2 separate regions of the Homo sapiens genome follow, and region 2 is linked to region 1. The links come from fine-mapping of genetic effects on gene expression. Tissue or cell type: testis. Region 1 holds a variant in brackets; the other region holds the start of a gene. All regions are shown on one strand. Distances are from middle to middle.

Region 1 (8,180 bases):
ACATGGCTCTCCCAGGGCTGTCACACCCCAGGCCAACATTCACCTGTCCTGACTATCCCGGGGCCAGGTATCAGACAAAAAGGGCAGCCCCTATCCTGAGAGCCACTGAAATTACTCAAGCCAGCTACCCTTAAACCTGTCTCCCCTGCTTACTCTGCCTTGCCCATTTCCTCCTGAGGAAACCAGAGGAAGTCTCTTGCCCACACGTTCCCCTCCCTCCTTCCGCCTTCTGACCCACCGTGGGGCTTTCCTATGTGGCCCCTCCTCTCAGAACCGTAAGTAACAAACTCTCCTTTCCATGGCAGTCCCCTCCTCATCCAATGGCTTTACCACACCTCGATGAGATGGTTTACAACAGGCCCATTCTAGAAGTAAACATTATTCCCAGAAATCCTGGAATAGGGATTCAGAAAATTCACATTGTGGAGGTGCCACGACTCGGGAGAGCCTGGCCAGCGAGGTGCCACCCGAATAGCTCCTGACCATGGGCACAGAAGGGACCAAACATGGAGAGAGGCACAGCCTGGAGTCATGGAAAAGGACCAGGCAGGACAGGAGGAAGAGCCTGGCAAGGAGGCAGGGGCGCAATAGTGCCCAAGCAGTGTGGGCATTAGGAAGAGGGCAGAAAGAAAACAGTGCTGTGGCACAAGACCGGGGCAGCCCCGGGCCAGCTCAGCCATCCAGTTCTTCCTTGACACTGATGTGCAAGGGGCAGATGCGCAAAGGCTCTGGAGGCCCGGCGCCCCGTGCACCCCCCAGGTAGAAGTAGGGGCGAACCTCCCCAAAGCGGGCGTGGAAGGTGTACAGGTGGCAGTGGCGCTCCGCGTCATAGAAAGACAGCTCGCCCTCCTCACACTCCAGCTCCACACGCAGGCGGCGTGGGATGGCCAGGACCAGGGGCGACGTGGCTGGGTCCGAGGTCACGCAGTGGTCCCCCTCCACGCCCTGCGTGCGGCAGACATACCAGAAGCCCGAGCGTGTGTCGTGGTAGCAGCTGTGTGAGTGGCCCTCAGCGCCCGAGTCCTGGCGCACACGTACCACGCCCACCCTCCAGCTCTGCAGCCCCCCAAGGGCCACCTCCCAGGCGTGCGAGCCCTGTGAGAAGACACGGGAGCCCAGCAGGCAGGGCGCCGAGGAGAAGCGTTCCGGGTTCTCCACCTGCACGCGGTAGCCATGGTTGGTGACGCTGGTGAGGTCGTCAGACACGGAGAGCCAGCCAGCTGCGGTGTTGGGGTCAAAGCTGAAGGGTACTGCAAGCAGAGGCGGAAATGGGGAATCAGCAAACCTGAGGTCCCTTAGGCCACACGTGGATATCTCCAGCCCCACAAACCAACCACTGTGTCACACCTGGCCCCAAGTCCATGCAAGGAGTGGCCCAGGGCTGGAGTGGTGGCAGGGGTTGGGCTGTATCCCCCAGAAGATATGCGGCAGTCCCAACCCCTGGTACCTCCGAGTGTGACCTTATTTGGGAATGGGGTGGTTGTACACATATTAGTTAAGATGAAGACTGGAGGAGGGTCCCCAATCCAATATGACCTGTGTCCTTAAAATAAAGAGGAGACAGACACAGATACACAGGGGAGAATGCTGTGTGATGGCGGAGGTGAGGATCAAAGTGCTGAGGGGGAGCCAATAAGGCCAAGAATGGCCAGGAGACACCAGGAGACGGAAGAGGAAATGAAGACTCTCCTCTACAGGTTTCAGAGGGGGCCTGGTCCTTCCAACATCTGGATTTTGGATTTCTACCCTCCAGAACTGTGAGAGAGTCAACTTCTGTCATTTTCTAGTTTGTGGTCCTTCGTTATGGCAGCCACAGGAACTCATACAGGCAGAGACTCTTAACACTCACACGACCAAGGGATGTTAGGACAGCACGGCCCATTCCCTGAGTCAGTGATATTCCTCCCCGTAAAACCAGGACACTGTGGCTCATGTGGGCTGCAGTCGCCTTAGGAGAGGCAAGCCCAGATGCAGGAGGTCTTTTATCATACAAAACACAGTTCTGAATAGGCAAGAAAGCCAGTTTCCCTCTCTGAAGAAGGGACCAAGTGTCAGGACCCTGAGAGAAGGCATTCTACCAGGAGGGTTGGAGGTGTTGGGCAGAGTGGAAAAGACCAGGGTACAGGAACCTGCCTGCGAGGGACTGGCAGAGGGATCAGCTGAGAGAGGAGGGGAGCTCTGAGGAGGTGGGAGGTGGGCCCGGCAGAGACCAGCCCTGGTGCCTCTTTGCTAACATGAAGGGCTTCCACCCATGCTTGGGACACCTGCCGGCACCCCCGCTCACCAGATTCCACAGATGCAAGCATCTTCTTCCAGACGCGGTACTGCAGGGAGCCCAGGTACTTGCAGACATCGATAAGCATGCCGGGCTGGACTGGCTCTGGCTCCATGGTGCAGAAGAGTCTGGAAAAGTACAATGGGTATGGTGGGCAGGGCCAGAGCCATGCAACCTGGGCCGAACTGGGCCAACTGGAAACCAGCAACAGGACTTGTTCCCTTCCCTCAGGCCCAAGTTTCCTGGCCACCTTCTCCAAGACAAGACTGGACTGGGCTACGATGGGAGATGGGCCAAGGCCAACAGGGCTGCCATCTCCCTTCAGCATTCAATCCGAGGGCTCACCCTGCCCCAACTAGGAGAAATACAAACAGGAGGTTCTCCAACATGGCTGCCATCCTTGCAGGCAGAAATCACACTTACACATCCGGCTCATGGGATGTCTGAGTTGGAAGGGACCCTAAGGATGCTCTAGTCCAACAATCCCAAGGTGTCCTCCAGCCTTTGCTTGCACACTGCCAGTGGGAAGTGAGCACAGGGAACTCACTCCCTCCAAAAGCACTCTATTCCATCTTTGCACAGCTCTGACTGGGACACAGCTCTTCCTCATTCATCCCTGTGAACCCAACAACCATCAACACAAACCACCATGGCCTAAGGCTCTCAGAGGGAGGGGGCTGATCAAGAAACAAGCCTGACATTGACTGGCCCCGAGAAATGCAAGCCACATGCAGGATAGTGTTCTCCTTCCCTGCACGGCAGGTGGGGACCCTCCACACTCAGGAGAACAACACTGCCCCAGAGCCAACTTGAACTGGATGCTGTGAGAGGGCTCTCTCCACCTGGCCATTGTCCACCTCTCCCTCTAAAACCAGGGCCAGTAGCTCATGTGTGCTGGTGCACCCAGCTGGTTGTTACCTGCTTGCCCCGGGGCCACTGGAGTTTGCACCCCTGGTATTTCTGCCCACTCTTCCCCTCCCCTCCACCAGCTTTGGCAACTTACCGGCGTTTTCGGCTCTTGTGTTTCTGAAAAAATAAAAATAAAAAAATAACACAGAGACACAGATGTAGAGGAAATGTATATGTTTCTGACCTCAAAAGAAGTCATGCATTCCATGGATCATAAGTCTTAATATTGTCAAGATGTTAACAATAACATCCCTGCTATGATTTGAACATATTATCCAAAAGTTCATGTGTTGAACACTGAATCCCCAATGCGACAGTGTTGGGAGGAAAGGCCTAAAAAGAGGTGATTGGGTCATGAGG[G/A]CAGAGCCCTCACAAATGGATTAATACCGTTATTGTGAAGTGGTTTAGTTGTCATGAGACTGGGTTGCTATAAAGCAATGAGCAACTACTCTGTCTTGCACTCATTTCCTCCTTCTGCCATGAGATGACCCACACCAAATGCCAGAGCCATCATGCTCCTGGACTTCCTGGCCTCACCCAGAACACTGAGCTGAATAAACTTGTATTGTTTTATAATTTACCCAGTCTGTGATATTCTGTCATAGCAACAGAAAACATAAGAAGAGACTCCTTAAGTTGATCTACTGATTCAGTGCAATCCCTTATCCTAGCTGGCTTCTTTGCAGAAACTAAAAAACTGATCCTAAAATTCACACAAAATTTCAAGGAACCCAGAATAGCCAAAACCATCTTGAAAAAGAAGAACATTGGAAGACTCATAATCTCCAATTTCAAGACTTACTACAAATCAACAGTAATCAAGATAGTATGGTACTAATATAAAAACAGGCACTGAGATCAATGGAATAGAATTGAAAGTCCAGAAATAAACCCTCATATTTACCATCAATCAATTATTTACAATAGTGCCAAGATGATTTAATGGAGGAATAGTCTTTCCAACAAATGGTACTGGGAAAACTGTATGTTGACATGCAAAAAAAAAAAAAAAAAAAAAGTGAAGTTGGACTAACCCTTACTATACCATATACAAAAAAAAAACTCAAAATGCATCAAAGACCTACATGAAGAGCTAAAACCGATAAAAAACTTGTATCTAGACTATATAAAGAACTCTTACAACTCAACAATAAAAAGACAACCCACATTAAAAATGGGCAAAGGATGTGAATAGACATTTGTCCAAGGAAGATCTACTAATGATCAAAAAGCCCATGAAAAGATGTTCCAAGTCATTAGCCATCAGGGATGTGATGACATGCAATACACAAGGAGATACCACTTCACACCTACAAGGATGGTTATAATTTTTAAAAAACAAATTTTGGCAAAAATATGGAGAAACTGGAATCCACATACACTCCTGATGGGAATATAAAATGATACAGTTGCTCTGAATAATGGCCTAGCAGTTCTTCCAATAGTTAAACCTAGAGTTACCATTTGATCCAGCAAATCTACTCCCAGACATATTTCCAAGAAAAATGAAAACATGTCCACATAAAAATTGCTACCTGAATGTTTATAGTCATATTATTCATAATAGCCAAAATAGAAACAACCCAAATGACCACTGTCTTAGTTCATTTTGTGTTGCTGTAACAAAATACCACAGACTGGGTAATTTATAAACAATAGTTTATTTCACTCGTGGTTCTGAAGCTGGAAAGTCCAAGAGCATGGCACCAGCATCTGATGAGAGCCCTCATGCTGTGTCATCCCATGGCAGAAGGAAGAAGGGCAAGAGACTACACATAAGACCAAGAGCAAGAGAGCAAGAGGGGCCCAAACTCACTTTTATAACAAGCCCACTCTCTCAATAACTAACCCACTCTGCCAGTAACAACATTAACCCATTCATGAGGGCTCTCATGACCCAATCACTTCTTATTAGGCTCCACCACCCAACACTGTTGCATTGGGGATTAAGTTTGTAACACATAAATTTTGGGGAACATATTTAAACCACAGCAACCACCAATTGATAAATCAATCAATAAAATATAATATAGCCATGTGCAACGTAACGATGTTTCAGTCAACAAGGAACCACATATATGACTATGGTATGGTCCCATGAGATTATATCACTGTTTTTTACTGTACTTTTTCTATGTTTAGATATACAAATACTTAACAGTGGGCTCCAGTTGCCTACAGTATTCAGTGCAGCAACGTGCTGTACAGGTTTGTAGCCTAGGAGCAAAAGGCTATTCCATATAATCTAGGTGTGCAGTAGGCTACACCATGTAGGCTTCTGTAAGCACACTCCATGACACTTGCATAATGAAGAAACTGCCTAATAATACATTTCTCAGAACATATCCCCATCACTAAGAAGTGCATGATTATATATCTATGCCATGGAATATTATTCAGCCATAAAAAAGAATGAAGTACTGATAGATGCTACAACATGAATGATGTTTCAAAATATGCTGACTGAAAGAAGGCAGTCACAAAAGGTTACATGTTATATAATTCCATGCATTTGAAATGTCTACAACAGGTAAATCCATATAGATAGTATGTAGACTAGTGGTTGCCAGGGGCTGCTAATTCTAGTAATTACCACTCTGTTAGACTCAATTTCGGTAGCAGTTTTTATGTGGGAGGAGGAACTGGGGAGTGACAGCTAAAGCAGGGCTGCTTTTGGAGGCATGAAATGTTCTAAAATTGTCGTGATGGTTGCACAACTCTGTATATACTAAAAATCACTGAGTGGTACATTTTAAATGGGTGAATTGTTTAGCATGTAAATTATATCTCAATAAAGTTGTTAATAAAAAATAAAAAAGAGTCACAAACCAAAATCATCCCTGAAAGCACTCTGAGTACTGGGCAGACAATACTCCCAATTCCCTAAACAGAATCCTCGAGACACACAGCTTTTAGATCCCACAAAATGATTTTTCTTTTTCTTTTTTTTTTTTCTTCATTTTTCTTTTTAGAGACAGCTCTGAACACAGAATGATTTCATAATCAGGGACATTTTTGAGACAGGAGACTTCATGGTTCCAGGCTTTGAGTGAGGTGGAGAACTCCTAAAGGACCCACCCAGGAGATGACACTGCCTGAACAGATAACTGTCCCTGTCGCCTCCCACTCCACTCTACAGCGACACCCCTTCCACAGCAGTCAGCTGTTTTCCAGGTACAAGAGACACCTCACCACCCTGGCCAGTTTACAGACCAGCTTTCGAGCCCAGAAATTTCCCTGTAGGAAATTTGTAAGGACCACTGGCTCATGGGGAGGAAATAAATCAATAAAAGGAAAAAAAAATGAATAATACTGTTTTTTTAAAGAGAGAATGGAATCATCCTTTTCTTAAGAAGACAGAAAGCCAAGGCATTATATTTAAATAAAAAATTTAAATAATTGAATGATTTTAAAAGAATTCATCTTATTAAAAGGTAGAGACCGGAAAAAAAATGAGAGTAAGAGAGAGGGCAAGAGAAAGGAAGAAAGAAGAGACAGGAGCTGGGCACAGTGGTGCGCCAGTAGTCCAACTACCTGGGAGGCCAAGGTGGAAGCATCACTTGAGGCCAGGGATTCAAGACCAGCTTGGGCAACATAGTGAGACCCCCCTCACCCCTACCTGACTGGTAAAAAATGAAAAAAATTAGTTGGGCATGGTGGCTCGTGCCTGTAGTCCCAGCTACTCAGGAGGCTAAGGAGAGAGGATCACTTGAGCCCATGAGTTTGAGGTTACACTGAGCTATAATCACCCACTGTACTCCAGCCTGGGTGATACAGCAAGACCCTGTCTCTAAAAAAAAGAAGAGCGAGGAAGAAATAACAGGGTTTCAAGGAACTCCGCCCTGATAAGTCTTTTTAGTTTCATGACACAAGCAGAGCAGGTTACTTGTGAGCTCCTCCAGGCCAGTACCCAGGAAGCTCCAGGAAGATGACGTTGGCCAGGGCTGGTGGGCTATGGCTCCCAGCTGGTCCTGGAACATGTGGCCCTGTCACTGAATCCAGACGCTGAGCTCCTTACCATGAGAAAAGAAACGTCGTCCTCCTTCATCTCCATCTGCAGCCGCTCGATCTCATGTGCCAGCACCTCCGTCTCCTCTGTGAGCTGCTTCATCTTCTCGTCGGCCAGAAGTTGCTTCTGCCTTGTCTCCTCGGCCATGGCATCCAGAATGGCCTGCTCCTCCACTCTCAAGAACTCGCGAAGCTTATCAAACTCCTGCCGGATCCGGCCTTCCAGCCATGCAGCCTCCACCTACGGAAGACAGCAGGAGGAGTCAGGGGTCAGATGTGGAGAGGACATCCATAGCCCAGCAACTTTCCCATTTTTAGCAAAGGAAATTTATGTTCAAATAAATCATGTATAGAACCCCTACAGATAAAATATCAACATAATAGTTTATAAGCACAAATTTCTAAGTTCCGATTTCAAATGGGAAAGTCCAACAACCTAATATTAGATTGTTTTGACAGGGTTTTTAAAAATAAAATCACAGCTTATATAGATGGCAACTGTAGTACTATAACCTCATCTACATACAATGTTCAGTTCCTTCTTTAGGTTGCACCATAACAAGGGAAGTCCTGAATCATAGAAATGAATGGCTGCGAATAGCAATGATTTTTTTTTAAGTATTTACCTTCCAATCTTAGGACTTAAAATTTGTCTGATCCAGAGGCTTTACCAAAAGAGCAGTAGGAAGCATTCATTTTAAAACAATCATTAAAATAATATACACACTCCAAATCACAACCACAAAAAGTTTGTTTTTTTTTTTCTTTTTGAGACTAAGTCTCGCTCTTTCACCTAGGCTGGAGTGCAGTGGTGTGATCTTGGCTCACTGCAACCTCTGCCTCCTGGGTTCAAGCAATTTTCCCTGCCTCAGCCTCCCGAGTAGCTGGGACTACAGGCACACGCCACCACGCCCAGCTAATTTTTGTATTTTTTAGTAGAGATGGGGTTTTGCCACGTTGGTCAGGCTGGTCTCAAACTCCTGACTTA
Region 2 (8,180 bases), 19 kb after region 1:
CATCAGCATTCGTATTTTCTTTTTTTCTTTCTTTTTTTTTTTTTTGAGACAGTGTCTTGCTCTGTCGTACAGGCTGGAGGGCAGTGGCACGATCTCGGCTCACTGCAACCTCCATCTCCCGGGTTTAAGCGATTCTCCTGCCTCAGCCTCCCAAGTAGCTGGGACTACAGGTACCTGCCACCATGCCTGGTTAATTTTTGCATTTTTAGTAGAGATGGGGTTTCACCATACTGGCCAGGCTGGTCTCGAACTCCTGACCTCGTGATCTGCCTGCCTCGGCCTCCCAAAGTGCTGGGATTACAGGCATGAGCCACCACACCCGGCCACCATTCATATTTTCTTAACAGCTTACTTGATATCAAGACATGACTTTCATCGTCTTGTCCTGATAAGGAAAGAAGAGAAATACACATAGCAGGTAAAGAATGTGCCGGACCCAAATGAAGGCCAATCCCGTAACAAGAAAGCTCCAGAGCTCTTCAGAGAAATTTGGGCGGATTAAGTAGTCACTTGGAACAGAGTAATGGGAGAATCAGAAGTATCTTGGCCAGGAGTAGAGATTTTGTTCCAGCAAAATAAAACTTTAGAATTAATATTTTAAGTGGAATGTTATTGATTATAGTTTTGTATTCAGTCTGTTCACTTCCTTTTGTTTTATTGCTTATATGTAGCATGAGCAAGTGCTATTTATACCAGGTTTGCATTTGTATGCATGTAAATAATAACATAATTTAACTCTCACTGGCTAGACTATTTTTTCCTTTAAGAAGAATGCATACTTGTTCAAGTTTGAGAAACGCCAGACTAGGATTTCTGAAGGTCCTTCCAAGCACTGTTCCTTGCTACAGCTCTGCTGTAAACATGATGCCAGGCTCCCAAATCTCATCAGTCCTTCCATCATGCGCCACTGCACCTACGATAAAAATCCCAGCTCCTAAGCAGGGCCCTCTGTGTCCTGTGGGATCTGTCCTGCAGTTCCTCATCCCCACGTGAACCATCTCTCAGTCACTGCACACCCCCACGCTGTGCCCCGCCGCCACACCCCCGCCACACACACACACTGCTCGCCGCCCCTCAATCAGCTCCTCTCAGCGAAATCACTTCCTTGGAGACTCCTTCCCACACCCCACCAAACAAGAGCAGCCTCCCCCTTACAATCTCCCACCACATCCTGTACTGTCCTTCACAGGAATGTTGAGCTGAAACTATGTAATTATTAGTGAGATGATACAACCATGCCCACAAAGGCAAGGTCTAGGACTGTCCGGTCCTGTCCTGGACACAGTACTGGCACACAACCAGTACCTTCTGCCAGCCCTGACAATGGTCAACAGCCACTCCAACCCCTAACACACAGTCAGCTGCCCGCTGAAGTCTGAGATGAGAGAAACCTCTCTCAAAGTCCAGGACCAGTGTGTGAACTGAACAAGGCTCCAGGTGATCTTTAGAGCTACTTGCTCTGTGACTTTGGACAAGTTTCTTACCCTCTCTATGATTCTATAATTGTCTATAAAATGGGGATAATAGCACCTAACTGTAGCAAGCTGAATAATTATTTCCCCGAAAAGATGTCCCCATTCTAATCCCCAGAATCTTGTATGGCAAAAGGGACTGTGCAGATGATTAAATTAAGGATCTTGCTGTGGGGAGGTTATCCTGGATTACCTGGGTGGGCCCAATGTCATCACAGGGTCCTTATGAGAGGGAGGTAGTAGAACTGGTCAAAGAAGTCAAAGTGACAACAGATGCAGAACGGAATGACACACTTCAGAGCTGGAAGAAGGGGCCTCTGCAAGCTGGAGAAGGCAAGGAAATAAATTCTCCCTGGAGCCTCCAAAAGGAATGTAGCCCTGCAGACACCTCGATTTTAGGACTTCCAACCTCCAGAACCATAAGAGAACAAACTTGTGCTATTTTAAACCACCACATTTATTACGCAGTAACAGGAAACACAGGACCTGAAAATACGTTTTTGTGAGCATTAAATTTGTTGACGTGTGAACACTGAAAAGCATCTAGCACACAGTGAGCACTGAAATGTGTTAGCTGGGATGATTTTGACTTTGCTGTTCCTCACATAGATAGTTGGCAAAGTAATCTTTCTCTAAAACACACATCCCATCACAAACTCCCCTGTTTAGAATCTTTCAGAGCTCCCCACAGCACAAAACGGAAAACCCCCTCAGTGAGGCACACAGCTTCTTACCCAGTCCCTTCTTACCAAGTGGTGGAGGGAATCTTCCCATACCGCTCCCCCACAACCACCTACCTTGAATCACACAGAACTACATCTTGTCTATTGACTGTCTATGCCCCCTGCTCAAATGAGAATTCCATGAAGCTAAGAAGAGGCCACAGCACACAACAGCCATCAGTACCCATTTGTCTAGTAAATGAGTGATTTGCACCCTGCATCAGGCTGACCACACCTGGCTCTCATTCTTCTCAGATCCATTTGGGACTAGACTACTCAGCCCCTGACATCATCCTGAGTGTCCACTGACTTGACACCATCATTCTTCTGCTAAAACCCCCAGCTGCTGTTCACAGCAAGGGTGAGCCACCGGCCTCCTGGATCCTCCTGCACGTCCCTCCTCATTCTAACTACCCTTAAATTCCCTCAGTGCCTAGAAAGTCAGGCTTTCCCACTTCTGGACCCTTCCAAATGCTGCTGCCTCTATCTGAAATACCCTCTTTCACCTGGCTAACACCTCCTCTTCCCTCGGGTCTCTGCTGGAAGCTCCTTGAGGCTGGAAATGGTCTATCTTGTCTCCTGCAGTATCCCTGGGACCTTGCAGTACCAGGCATCTGCTGGTGCATGGCTCTCTGCTCTTGAATCCTGGCTTGGCCCCAGCCTGGGGGCTCTGCCTGGGTGTTCTCAGCCCTGACCCCAGCATCTCCTGATCAGCACCTCGGCCAGCCAAATAGGCATCAGTCATGACCTGAACCATGATCCCTCCTTTACCTGGGCCCCAGACCCCTGGCTGGCCAGCACTTATTCCAGCTGTCCCAAATCAGGATCTGTCACTTCTGCCAGTGGAAACAGGAAAAGCATTGACATGGACCCATGTTAAACAAAAAAGATGACAGGAGTAACAGGGTTACTCATTGAGACATGCGTACTGACAGCATCCTTACATTCCCCTTCAATTAAACTTTGTCAAATGCATTTGGAGCGGAACAGACTTCCGTATTTAAAAAGGTATTGCAAAAAAAGAAGGCAGGGCCACAGAGGGGGCCAGAAACCAGGCACAGGGGACTCGGGCAGCTCCTCCTCTCCAGTCCATGCAGCTTCGGGCCAGCTACCCAGTGTTCTCCCAATTGGGGCTCTGACTCATGCATTAGCAGGTGATGAAATAAATTCAATGTTTCACATTCTGGGTAATTTTTAAAAGTAACAGAGGCCAGGCGGAGTGGCTCACGCCTGTAATCCCAGTAGTTTGGGAGGCAGAGGAGGGCAGATCACTTGAGGCCAGGAGTTCCAGACCAGCCTGGCCAACATGGTGAAACCCTGCCTCTACTAGAAATTAAAAAAAAAAAAAAATTAGCCAGGCGTGTTGGTACATGCCTGTAATCTCAGCTACTCGGGAGGCTGAGGCACCAGAATCGCTTGAACCCAGGAGGCGGAGGTTGCAGTGAGCTAAGAGCACGCCACTGCACTCTAACCTGGGCGATAGAGGTCTCAAAAAAAAAAAAAAACAAAGGGAAGTAACAGAAAATATCAGAGTGCCATGGACATGTTCAGAAAACTTTTGTTTCAACTGATACATATGTTCTGGGTCACAAGGGAAAATGCATTGCTTCCTATGGGCTAAGATTAAACGTTTTGGAAAATGCTGAGTTAGGCTAACCCTTATCTTCTATTCATTTTTCCTTCCTATATCAAAGAATTCTCCATGTTAGTTTTGCCCTGTAAGTTGCTCCTGGGTTTATGTATAGTCACTAGAACTCTAGATATGGAGATGCTGCTTTATAAACCAGAATAGGCCAGCCAGCCAGGGTCAGAGACCTCTCACTCAGATAATACAAACCGCGGGATCAGCTTGGCAAGTAGGTGACTGGTTTGGGGGAAATCTTAAGACTCCACACCCCTGGCCAGGTCTGTGGCTCCTCCTCCACTTCTAAATTGAGTGTGCCAAGCTACAGGGCTCGTGGGCTGCACCCACATCCGTGCCGCTTAAAGGGACCTGGGCCACACCCGGCTGGCACAAGGGGTGCATGGCCTGGGCCCTTCAGAAGCAAGTGTCGCTGTCTTGGGAACATCATGTAACCTCATCTGTCACTTTCCGTTCGCATTCTCTTCTCCCAGCACGGGCCCCTGGGCCGACCTTGAAGAAGCAGCCAGCCCTGAGAACCTGGGTCGGAGAGGTGGGGTCCTGCATGCTGGGAGCGAGACGCGGGCACACTGGGCTCTGGCAGGCAGGAGGGGCGGGAGCCGCAGAGCCAAGGGATTCCGGGTTCCAGACCCGGCTCGGCCGCCTCGTGCAAATCGCTGCTCTTACCCGAAAGTCGTGGGCAGTGTCCTTCACCGGCTGCACGCGGTGCCCCTGGTGTCGGGGGTCGGCCTGGCAGGAGCAGCACAGCAGCTCCTTGTCCTCGAGGCAGAAGAGGCTGAGCTGTCCGCGGTGCAGGCGGCAGACACGCGAGAAGCGGTAGCTGGTCCAGCGCGCGCCCTCGGCCTCCTCGCGCAGCAGCTTCTCCACCAGGTTGTTGAGGGTGTGGTTGGTGCGCAGGTCGGCGGGTGACGCGCGGTCTTTGCACACTGGGCAGGTGGGCGACACCTGCACCTCCCAGCAGCGGCTCACGCACCCGCGGCAGAAGTTGTGGCCGCAGCGCAGAGTGACTGCGTCGCGGAAGGGGTCGTAGCAGACGGCGCAGAGCAACTCCTCCTTGAAGGAGCGGGAAGGCCCGGGGGACACGTCGGGACTCCGCTCCATGGCACGAGCAGCCGGCTCGGGCGCCCGGAACTTTTGCTCCGGCCCCTCCCACCCGCCCGGCTGCCAACGCCCGCGACCCGAGTGCTGGGAATCGCCCAGTCCCTTCCCCTGGAACGCTGAGAGACAGCGGCGCTGGCCAATCGTGCGGGGGGGATGGCGAGGGGGAGGGAGGGGGCGCTCGGAGGAGCCCCACCCACTTCCGGTGTGCGCGGGAAATCTTGGGAGAGCGGGGTGGGCCTTCTGCCCGCAGTTCCCGCCTCCTCAGGTCCGGGCGGGTCCCTGGCCGGGGTAGCACGGAAGGGTCTCCCAGGCGGCGTAGTAGGGCTTCCGTGTTACTGGAAACCTACTTCCGGCTGCAAATGGGAAAAGGAGCCTCTACCTTAACCAATCCCCGGGAACCTCAGGCCCGCGGATGGGAGAAACCAGAGATGCCAACTTCCTGCTTCCGAAGTAGTGGCTGGGTCTTAAAGCACCGTGAGTGCAATCACCACTTAAGTTTGCAGCGCCTTTTTGAGGACCTATGCCACTCTTGCATTAGTCGTTTACTTATTTTGGCCAGTCTTCTTCTGGCCCGCCGCGGTAAGGAGAAACAAGAGAGGGGTGGCGGCAGAAGAGCTCCGAGAAAACCTGATTCTTGTCCTGTGGTTGAAAAAGTGAACAGGTCATCATGTTTCAAAGTCCATTTACTCATGAGTACAATGGCTGTAATAGCTCTGTTTCCATGAAGTGTGAGGATAAAGTGAAATAAATGTGGAAAGTGCTCATGACAACCACTGTTTTAATGGGCAAGTGCCCATTAAAACAGTGAAATTGAGGACTTCTGCAAAGTTTAGCTGAGATAACTAGAGTTCATGCTCAATTCTTGCCAGGTACAGTAGGCCTGGATGGTTCCTTCAGATCTTCATTCCTGCTTCAGTTTGATCACTTTACAGCCTCCAGATGCAGAATACTTTTCACACGATGCACTTTCATTCCTTTTCTATTGGGAGACAATTCACATGTGTCATGTTCCTGCATGTCTTGAGAGAGCAGAGGCACTGACTGCCTTTTTCCAACTATCTTTTCAAGGATGTTTCTGCATTGAATAGCCCTGGAAGACAGAATTCTTGTCTCTCCAAAGATCTGGCAGACTTATTCCCAATTATAAGAGATGTGAGTTTCCTAAACTTGGGGCCCCTCTCCTGTAATGCAACCTACTGTAGCCTTCATCACATAGTCTTGCAAGAATTAGGGCTCAGAAACTGGCCCAATGACAATACTGTGACTACTATTATTGCTGTTAGTATTATCCTTTGTCTCTGACCCAGGAGTTTCATCTTTTAGCAGTATTCATGAAATTTTGGCATGCAAACTTGTTAGTGTTGAAACTCAGAAAACAATACCCCAAAATGGCCTCAAAAGCAGAAATTTTTCTCTGCCCTCCTATCTCTCAGTCCCCCAAGGATAGCCATAGAAATTAGAATTCCTTTTCCCCAAGGCAGGTCATAGAAACCAGAACCCCTTTTTCCTAAAGCCAGTCTTGAAACCTTAAAATATTACTCTTTCTCTCTGCCTTTCTGTGGAATAACTGGCCATAAAGAAATTATCTGACCTACCTTGTTTGACTGTAGGCCATAAGAGCCCGATTCCAGAGAGGGTCCTACCCCATACCTGTTAGGGGTAGAAGGTGTCTGAGTTAACAGCAGTGAATCTGTATGGGTCTGCAGCAACCTCAATTCTTGCCTCCTTGGAAGAAAGAATTAGACTGAGGGGCATGATATGGTTTGGCTGTGTCCCCACCCCAAATCTCATCTTGAATTGTAATCCCCATAATTCCCACGTGTCAAGGGAGAGACCAGGTGGAGGTAATTGAATCACAGGGGTGGTTTTCCCCCCATGCTGTTCTCCTGATAGTGAGTGAGTTCTCACGAGATCTGATGGTTTTATAAGTGTTTGGTAATTCCTCCTGTGTTCATTCTCCTTCCTGCAGCCTTGCAAAGGAGGTGTCTTGCTTCACCTTCACCTTCCACTGTGATTGTAAGTTTTCTGAGGCCTCGCCAGCCATGCGGAACTGTGAGTCAATTAAACCTCTTTCCTTTATAAATTACCCAGTCAGTCTAAGGCAGTTCTTTATAGCAATGTGAAAATGGACTAATACAGGGCATAAGGCAGAAAAAGCAACTGAGGCAAGTTTCAGAGCAAGAGTGGAAGTTTATTAAAAAGTTTGGGACAGAAAAGAAAGTACACTTGGAAGAGACCCAAGCGGGCAACTTGAGGGACAAGTGTGGCATTTAACCCTGATCCTGGGACTTCATATGCTGGCCCACTTCTGGAGTCTTGCTGCCCTCTCCCTTCATTCTTCCCTCAGTGTGAGCTGCCCGAATGCACAGTGCCCTCCCTATGCTTGGGAGGTGAGCATGCACCATGTGCTTAGGAATTTGTACACATGCCCATCTGAGGCTTTCTTCCCTTTTCCAGTGGAATGCCCCCGGAAGGTCATACTCCACTATTTTGTCTCTTAATGTGCATGCCCAAGCTCACTCACCCAATTTCTGAAATTTTATTGGAAGCTGATTACCAATCTCAAGTGTTTTTATCTGTTTGGGAAATTGCCTATGCCTGGCACCTGCTTTAATATCAATTAACATCAAGTAACACTTTAGTGACAGCTGTGGACCATCAGGGAATTGTCTCTCTCCCTCTCTCTGGCCCATCTGCCAAATTATCCATTTTAGAAAGGCAGTGTGATAACTGTGAAACCATCACCTGGCATTCTTGCTTGAGGGGATTGGGGAGGGTAGAGTCCTCTCCTGCCCTGCTCATGCCTGTCTAACTACCTGTAACATACCTGGAAGGAAGAAATGCATGTTCGTAGAGGCCAAGAAAAATCTAGACAGACAGGCCTAGGTTCCCCACTCAGTTTATTAACATTAGCTCATACCCTTTTGTTCAATCATATTTCTACACAGCTACTCATACTTTGCTGAACCTAAGCATGAAAATGAGCCATTTCCAGTCTATCTTTAGGTCTTCATTCTGAAGGCTCCCATGTCACATAAAACTATGATCAGGCCAGGCATGGCGGATCGGGCCAGGTGCCAGTGGTGGCTCACACCTGTAACCCCAGCACTTTGGGAGGTCGAAGAAGGCCTTGAGCTCACAAGTTCAAAACCAGCCTGGGCAACATAGCAAAACCCCGTCTCTACAAAAAATACAACGGGCGCGTGTGGTGGTGTGCGCCTATAGCCTGAGGCAGGAAAATAG

Alleles and levels. Positions count from the first base shown, and alleles are read on the strand shown. Sizes are in standard deviations (SD) of each study's normalised expression.
In carriers of allele A in region 1, the expression in testis of the gene that starts at base 4,974 in region 2 tends to be lower than with G alone (small effect, 0.22 SD a copy in GTEx).

What was found. PIP is the estimated chance that this variant, and not a neighbour inherited with it, causes the effect.
Region 2: it holds the start of TRIM35, and the variant in region 1 is fine-mapped to the expression of TRIM35 in testis (GTEx, PIP above 0.99).

The regions. Positions count from the first base shown.
Region 1 is chr8:27,286,878-27,295,057 of GRCh38, forward strand. TRIM35 (tripartite motif containing 35) reads right to left here. Exons shown (of 6, transcript NM_171982.5): 3 at 7,203-7,433; 4 at 3,279-3,301; 5 at 2,285-2,403; 6 at 1-1,250. The coding sequence ends at 673. Among named protein-coding and RNA genes, the nearest start is that of TRIM35, 20 kb to the right of the region's middle. The variant G/A (reference allele first, on the strand shown) is at 3,545.
Region 2 is chr8:27,306,299-27,314,478 of GRCh38, forward strand. TRIM35 (tripartite motif containing 35) reads right to left here and starts at 4,974. Exons shown (of 6, transcript NM_171982.5): 1 at 4,503-4,974. The coding sequence starts at 4,937. It also overlaps a transcript of PTK2B not described here. RefSeq lists enhancers at 3,943-4,052, 4,453-4,672, 4,683-4,832 and a silencer at 4,983-5,192.